Linked DNA regions of Homo sapiens: region 1 is linked to region 2. Evidence: fine-mapped expression QTL. Tissue or cell type: whole blood. Region 2 holds a variant in brackets; the other region holds the start of a gene. All regions are shown on one strand. Distances are from middle to middle.

Region 1 (2,500 bases), 37 kb before region 2:
AATGCTCCAGGACGTGGGTTTAATCCCGCTTCTGACCTTGCGCCCCAATCTCCTGCTCTGCCAAACCTGGGACGCCCGCCTGACCCCACCCCATCAGCTGGAGGCCGGGTCGAACAGCGGCCGCAGGACGCGGTCTCCGTTCCCGGACGCAACCGCACGGCCCGCCCAGGCCGTCCAGGGCCCTCAGGCCCGGGATCCGCCGCACTCACCACGGTCCTGGCAGCGAAGGCTAACATCTTCGCTGCCCGTCCGCGGACACGCAGTCCGCTCCGCCCCACACACCGGGCAAAGTCCGCGCCGCCGCCGCCGCGGCTGGGGTCGGTGGGTCCTTGCTAGAGCCTTCGGGCCAAGGTCGCTGAGTTACAGCCGCCAGCCGGTAGAGGCAGCCCCGCGCCCACCCTCTGGGCCGAGCGGGCTGCGGGAAGGCACCCGGGGAGGAGGACTCGCGAGGCGGGGCCTGGGCCGGTAGCGGGCCCCGGGCGGGCAACGGTGCCCGGGAGGTTGGCTGTGGGGCGGGGACGGGGCATCGATGGGGCGGAGTCTCCTTGAGGAGGGACAGGAGGGGCGGGGACGGAGGGGCGGGGCGTCGCCCGGTAGCGGGTCGCAGTAGGCTGGCTGCGAGTCGGGGGCGGGACCACGGCGGGCGGGGACAGAGGGGCAGGGCCGAGGGCGAGTCATTGAGACCTGTGGAGGAGGAAGGAGGAGGTCACCGTCCAGCTGTCTCTCCCCTGTCCCCACATGTCTTCTAAGCTGTTGGAGGTAGTGGTGTGCACCTTTCCAACTCCGTCTGGTGTCCTTGAGCCTAACTCTTAGAGTGATAGGAAAACACAACCATGTTGACCGGGGAATGTCCTCTAATATTCCTTGGGTTAGGGTCAGTACCACCCACAAAGATGACAGGTGGTACTCCGGGACAGGAGACTGTCCCGGAAAAACATGGCTGAGCACAACCCAAACTTGACGCCCCGCACAATCGTGGCAGTCGCGGCGCCCGACGTTCGGGCGGCCGTGAGCGGTCCTAGCGCTTGGCGGCCGTTGGCGCGCATGCGCCCCGCGCGCCCCGCACTGACATGGCCGTCGCCCGGTTCCGCGCGTCCGCCGCGCGCCGGCCGTTAATAGGCTTGCTCCCTGAGCGCCCCGCACCGACATGGCGGCCGTCTTCGCTGTGGTGACTTTAACTCTCGGTTTTCGGTTATAGCCGGCCGGCGCTCACTTGTCTTCAGGAAGCTCGGAGCCTTTGGTGGAGCCGGGGAGAGGAAGGGTGGGTGCAAGAGTGAAAGGCGAGAGGGGACTGCAAGCATCCGGGTCGGCTCCTGGCCGGAGCAAGATGGCTGAGGGCGAGCGGCAGCCGCCGCCAGGTAAGGCCGGCGGGGCCAGGCCGGGCCGGGGTCGGGTAGGGTGGGGGCGGTGCCAGGTGTGGGAGGCTCAGGAGGGCGAGAGTCATGACACGGAGGAACTGGAGGGGCAAAAGCTGAGGGGCCCCGAGGAGGGACTGAGTTGAATGGCCTTAGGGGAGAGGTGGGTGGTGGGGCGCCGCTGGGGAGGGAACCAGGGGCTGCAAAGGGGTGGTGATTGGGGCGCAACTCTGGGTTTTGTGGGAGTCCAGGCTGCCCGAATGCTGGGTGGGCAGCGCCGTGGTCATAAGGGGGCCTTTTGCATCTCTGGGCAGCGCGTGCTTAAGTAAGCTGCTGACTCGGTGGGGAAGCTGCCAGGGAGGGGGGCGAAAGTGATTCCGGAGGCTGCCGTCTTTATTAGTCGCTGCTTAGGGGATGGGGTGGTGCTCCGTGGGCCTGCGCCCGCCTCGCCTCCAGTTTCGGCCTCCGCGTCCTGCTCACCCCTCATCCTCCTACTCTCTGGTTCCAGTGCCTGAGAATTTATTGAGGGAAACTGCCCGTGGTGTCTAAATCCCTAATTTTAAAAGGCTGGTTGTGCAAGGAGGTTAGTCTCTCCGGCATCTCCTTCGGTAACTCTTATTTACCTTGTAGCCTCTTTTTAGTTCATCTTAAATAACTGGGATGGAGGTGCTACGGAAGGATCTTAGAGACCCTTTTTGTGCAGAAGGAGAAGGCTGTTTGCCGACCTACCTTGAACTAAGAAGGACTGGCCATAGATAACTTTTACATTCCCGACAGAGGCAAATAGGTTGGCCGACCAAACACAGCTAATGTTTTGAAAGCATTTGATATTCTTGCTATCCTGTCTCCAATGTTGGGGTCCCTGGGAAGGTCTCAGGAGGGAGAAATGTTGAAAATCAGAAAAGGCATCCCCTCCATGCCCCACAAAAGAGGTGAACAAAGAGCTGGGTTCCGTTTCTTAGGACATTCAAAACCAGACATTTATTTTGTACAAAACCTCTGGGTGTGTGCCCTTAGAACAAGGATGTCCAGGCCAGGCGCGGTGGCTCATGCCCGTAATCCCAGCACTTTGGGAGGCCGAGGCGGGCTGATCACCTGAGGTCGGGAGTTCGAGACCAGCCTGACCAACATGGAGAAACTCCGTC
Region 2 (2,756 bases):
CCTGTGATCCAGCACTTCAAGTTCGGGAGCCTGCTGCCCATCCATCCTGTCACGTCGGGCTAGGAGGGGCCAAGCCGAAGAGCCACCCAGGCCACAGTTCCTGTGCCTGCCTTCCCCACCCCAGCAGTGGCCCCTCCCCATCCCCTCCCTCTGTTCGTCCCGTTTGATGAGAGGCTGTTTACTGGGGTGGGGTGGCGAGATGGGCTTGAGGGGGCTCAGAGCATAAGGCTTCAGGGCCCAAGTTGGGAGAAGTGACCAAAGTGTAGCCAGTTTTCTGAGTTCCCGTGTGCTAGACTGGCCAGAAGAGAGGGTCTGGGGCCTGGTCACTCGGCCACTCTCTCCTGTTTCTGGCCTCTTCTCCCTTCACTCCCGTCCAGTCTGGTTTTGAGAGCAGGGGCTGTTCTGCAGCACCGCAGGGAAGGGAGGAGAGATACCTGCTGCTTCCATTGCTTTTCCCTTCCTGGAGTCGATGCCTTTCTAAGGGTTGGAGCTGCTCCTTGCAGGGGCGGGTCAGTTTCCCAGGCCATGCCGGGGTGGCCATCTATGGTAGGGCTGGAAGCTGAGGCTGGCCGCCAGCTGTGGGCTGGGGTGGGGTGGGTGGGGTCGGGTGGTGGAGAGGCCTTAGCTGTCCTGGCTGGTGCCCCTCCCAGGCTCCTTTTCACCCTGCCCCCTGGGCCTGAGGCCCCCTGTGTCCAAGCCTCCCCCTGGCTCTTCAGTTCTCTAGCCCTTGGCTCTGCTGGGTTTCCTGACTGTAGCCACATCTCTCCCGCTCCCTAAGGGTAACCTAGCCAATGGAAGCTGCCCTTTGGGTAGGTGCTGGGCTCCTGGGAGGGCCCAGATGATGGGGTGAGGCATGTCTTTCCAGAACTTTCCCTGGCAGGGAGGGGATGGCAGAAACTCAGGGAGGGGCTTGGGGCCCATTGTATCTGGAGAGCCTGGATTCCTCTTGGCAGTCTTAGGCCCGGCCACTTCTGCTACCTTTGCGCTGCTGTGAGCCTCACCCTGGGCCCCTGGGCCCTGCTTCTCTGCTCCCCTGGGTGATGGGTGGGCCCAGAAGGTGGCAGTCCCACACCTTGTCCTCCCACCTCCCTGAACTGTCCATTGCTTTTATAGGGTGAGGTAAG[A/T]GACAGCCTCCCAAGCCCAGGCTTTGGCACTCAGAATGGGCCCAGTGGGGGCTGGGCAGGCCCATTGAGGGCCACCGCCGAGGTTTCTCCTAGGGCTGTTCCTGGGCCTGGCTCTTACAGGCTCGTCCCCCAGGCCTGCCCTTCTCCACTGCCCCCTCCTGTGTCTGGGTCCACACACCCTTCAGGAAGGGGGAGCACTGAGAAGCACAGCACAGGGGCTCAGCCTGGGATCCGGTGATGGTCTGGGCAGAGGCTGGGTCAGGAGTCCCAAAGGTCAGTGACAGTTTCTCAGAAGAGGCCCAGCGTCCACCTCTCTCCCAGGGCCAGACAGCCCTTCCTGGCTCCCCCATCCCCCTATGGGCTCCCAGCCCCTTGCACCCTCATTGCTGTTCAGATTAAAGCCTCTGTTTTGCACCTGTCACTTGTGTGAGGTATGTCTTTTCATGTCACATGTTTAACCCATTTCTGCATGACTGACCTCCATCAGGTCCCCTTCTCTCAGGCCACAGTGTCTGAGACGAGCTGTTTCAATTTGGGTTGAGCCTTTCCTGGGTTTAAATCCTAGCTGTCTGCAGTCCCAGCTGCAAGGTTGTAAGTTACTGAAGCCCCTGAGCCCCAGCTTCCTCAATTCACAAAATGGGGACAGTCACAGGGTGACTGCCAGCAGTGGACAGCAGATGTGAAGTCCTCAGCTCAGGGCCTGGCACATAGCATATCCCGGGTGGTCACTGCAGCTGTGCTTGGTGAAGGGGGCCCCTCTGGACTCCCAACTTAGCCCCAAGCTGGCCAGGGAGCCTTTGGATGGGCTTTGACAGTGGAACATGCACCTGTGGTTTGTGAGGGGGTGGCCCTCTATTCTCCCTCCTCTGCCCCTCCTGTCCCTGCTGGGCTGGAGTTGAGGGTCTCTGGGGCTGCTGTGCCCCAGACTTCCTTAAGACACTCTTGCTCAGAGAACAAGGGTCCTTGACCTTTCTCTTGGCCTTAGAGGCCTTGCATGGACTGGAAAGCCTCAGCCCCTCATCACCTTGCGCTGCCTCAGGCACACCCGAGTTCAAACTGAGCAGCTGCTGCTTACTCACCAGGAAGTAGAGGGCCCTCATGGTTGACTTCTCTCTGAGCCTCAGCTTCCTGATCTGAAAAATGGGCATAATGACGTTCCTATCATTGGTCTTGAGGATTCCTTCATTTCACAAATAGTGGCTGCATGTTCCTCATGACTGCAGTGCACCCAGATATGACAGTGTTAGGTAGCCGGTGGATTATGGAGAAAATAACGTCAATTAGAGAAGGCGTTGATGGGGGCAGGGCAGGGGGTTACTTGCTCTAAAAGGTCCTGTGAGCTGAGACCCTGAGGACAAGAAAGAGCCGCTGTGGAGAGCTCAGGCCTGGGCCTGGAGGGCTAGGGTTGGGTATAGGGGCCAGACTTTTAGGCCGGGGCCTTGCGGGCTCTGCTGAGTTTGGACAGTGTTCTATGGGAAGGTGCTGGAAGGTTTTGTTGGGGAGAAGGGGAGATAGGACCATTTGGGAGGTTGTAGTTGTGATTGGGCACAGGGATAGTGGCCTGGGTGAGGGTTCAGAGTGGGATGGTGGGAAGTGGTCCAATTTAGGCTGCATTTGGTGTCGCTAACAGGA

Evidence for each region. PIP is the estimated chance that this variant, and not a neighbour inherited with it, causes the effect.
Region 1: PTPA starts here. The variant in region 2 is fine-mapped to the expression of PTPA in whole blood (TOPMed, PIP 0.98).

The regions. Positions count from the first base shown.
Region 1 is chr9:129,110,274-129,112,773 of GRCh38, forward strand. PTPA (protein phosphatase 2 phosphatase activator) reads left to right here and starts at 1,142. Exons shown (of 10, transcript NM_178000.3): 1 at 1,142-1,358. The coding sequence starts at 1,328. CRAT (carnitine O-acetyltransferase) reads right to left here and starts at 520. Exons shown (of 14, transcript NM_000755.5): 1 at 210-520. The coding sequence starts at 236. RefSeq lists silencers at 276-715, 1,406-1,455 and enhancers at 1,126-1,405, 1,338-1,878.
Region 2 is chr9:129,147,402-129,150,157 of GRCh38, forward strand. PTPA (protein phosphatase 2 phosphatase activator) reads left to right here. Exons shown (of 10, transcript NM_178000.3): 10 at 1-1,545. The coding sequence ends at 63. Among named protein-coding and RNA genes, the nearest start is that of IER5L, 29 kb to the right of the region's middle. RefSeq lists enhancers at 1,023-1,122, 1,157-1,657. The variant A/T (reference allele first, on the strand shown) is at 1,125.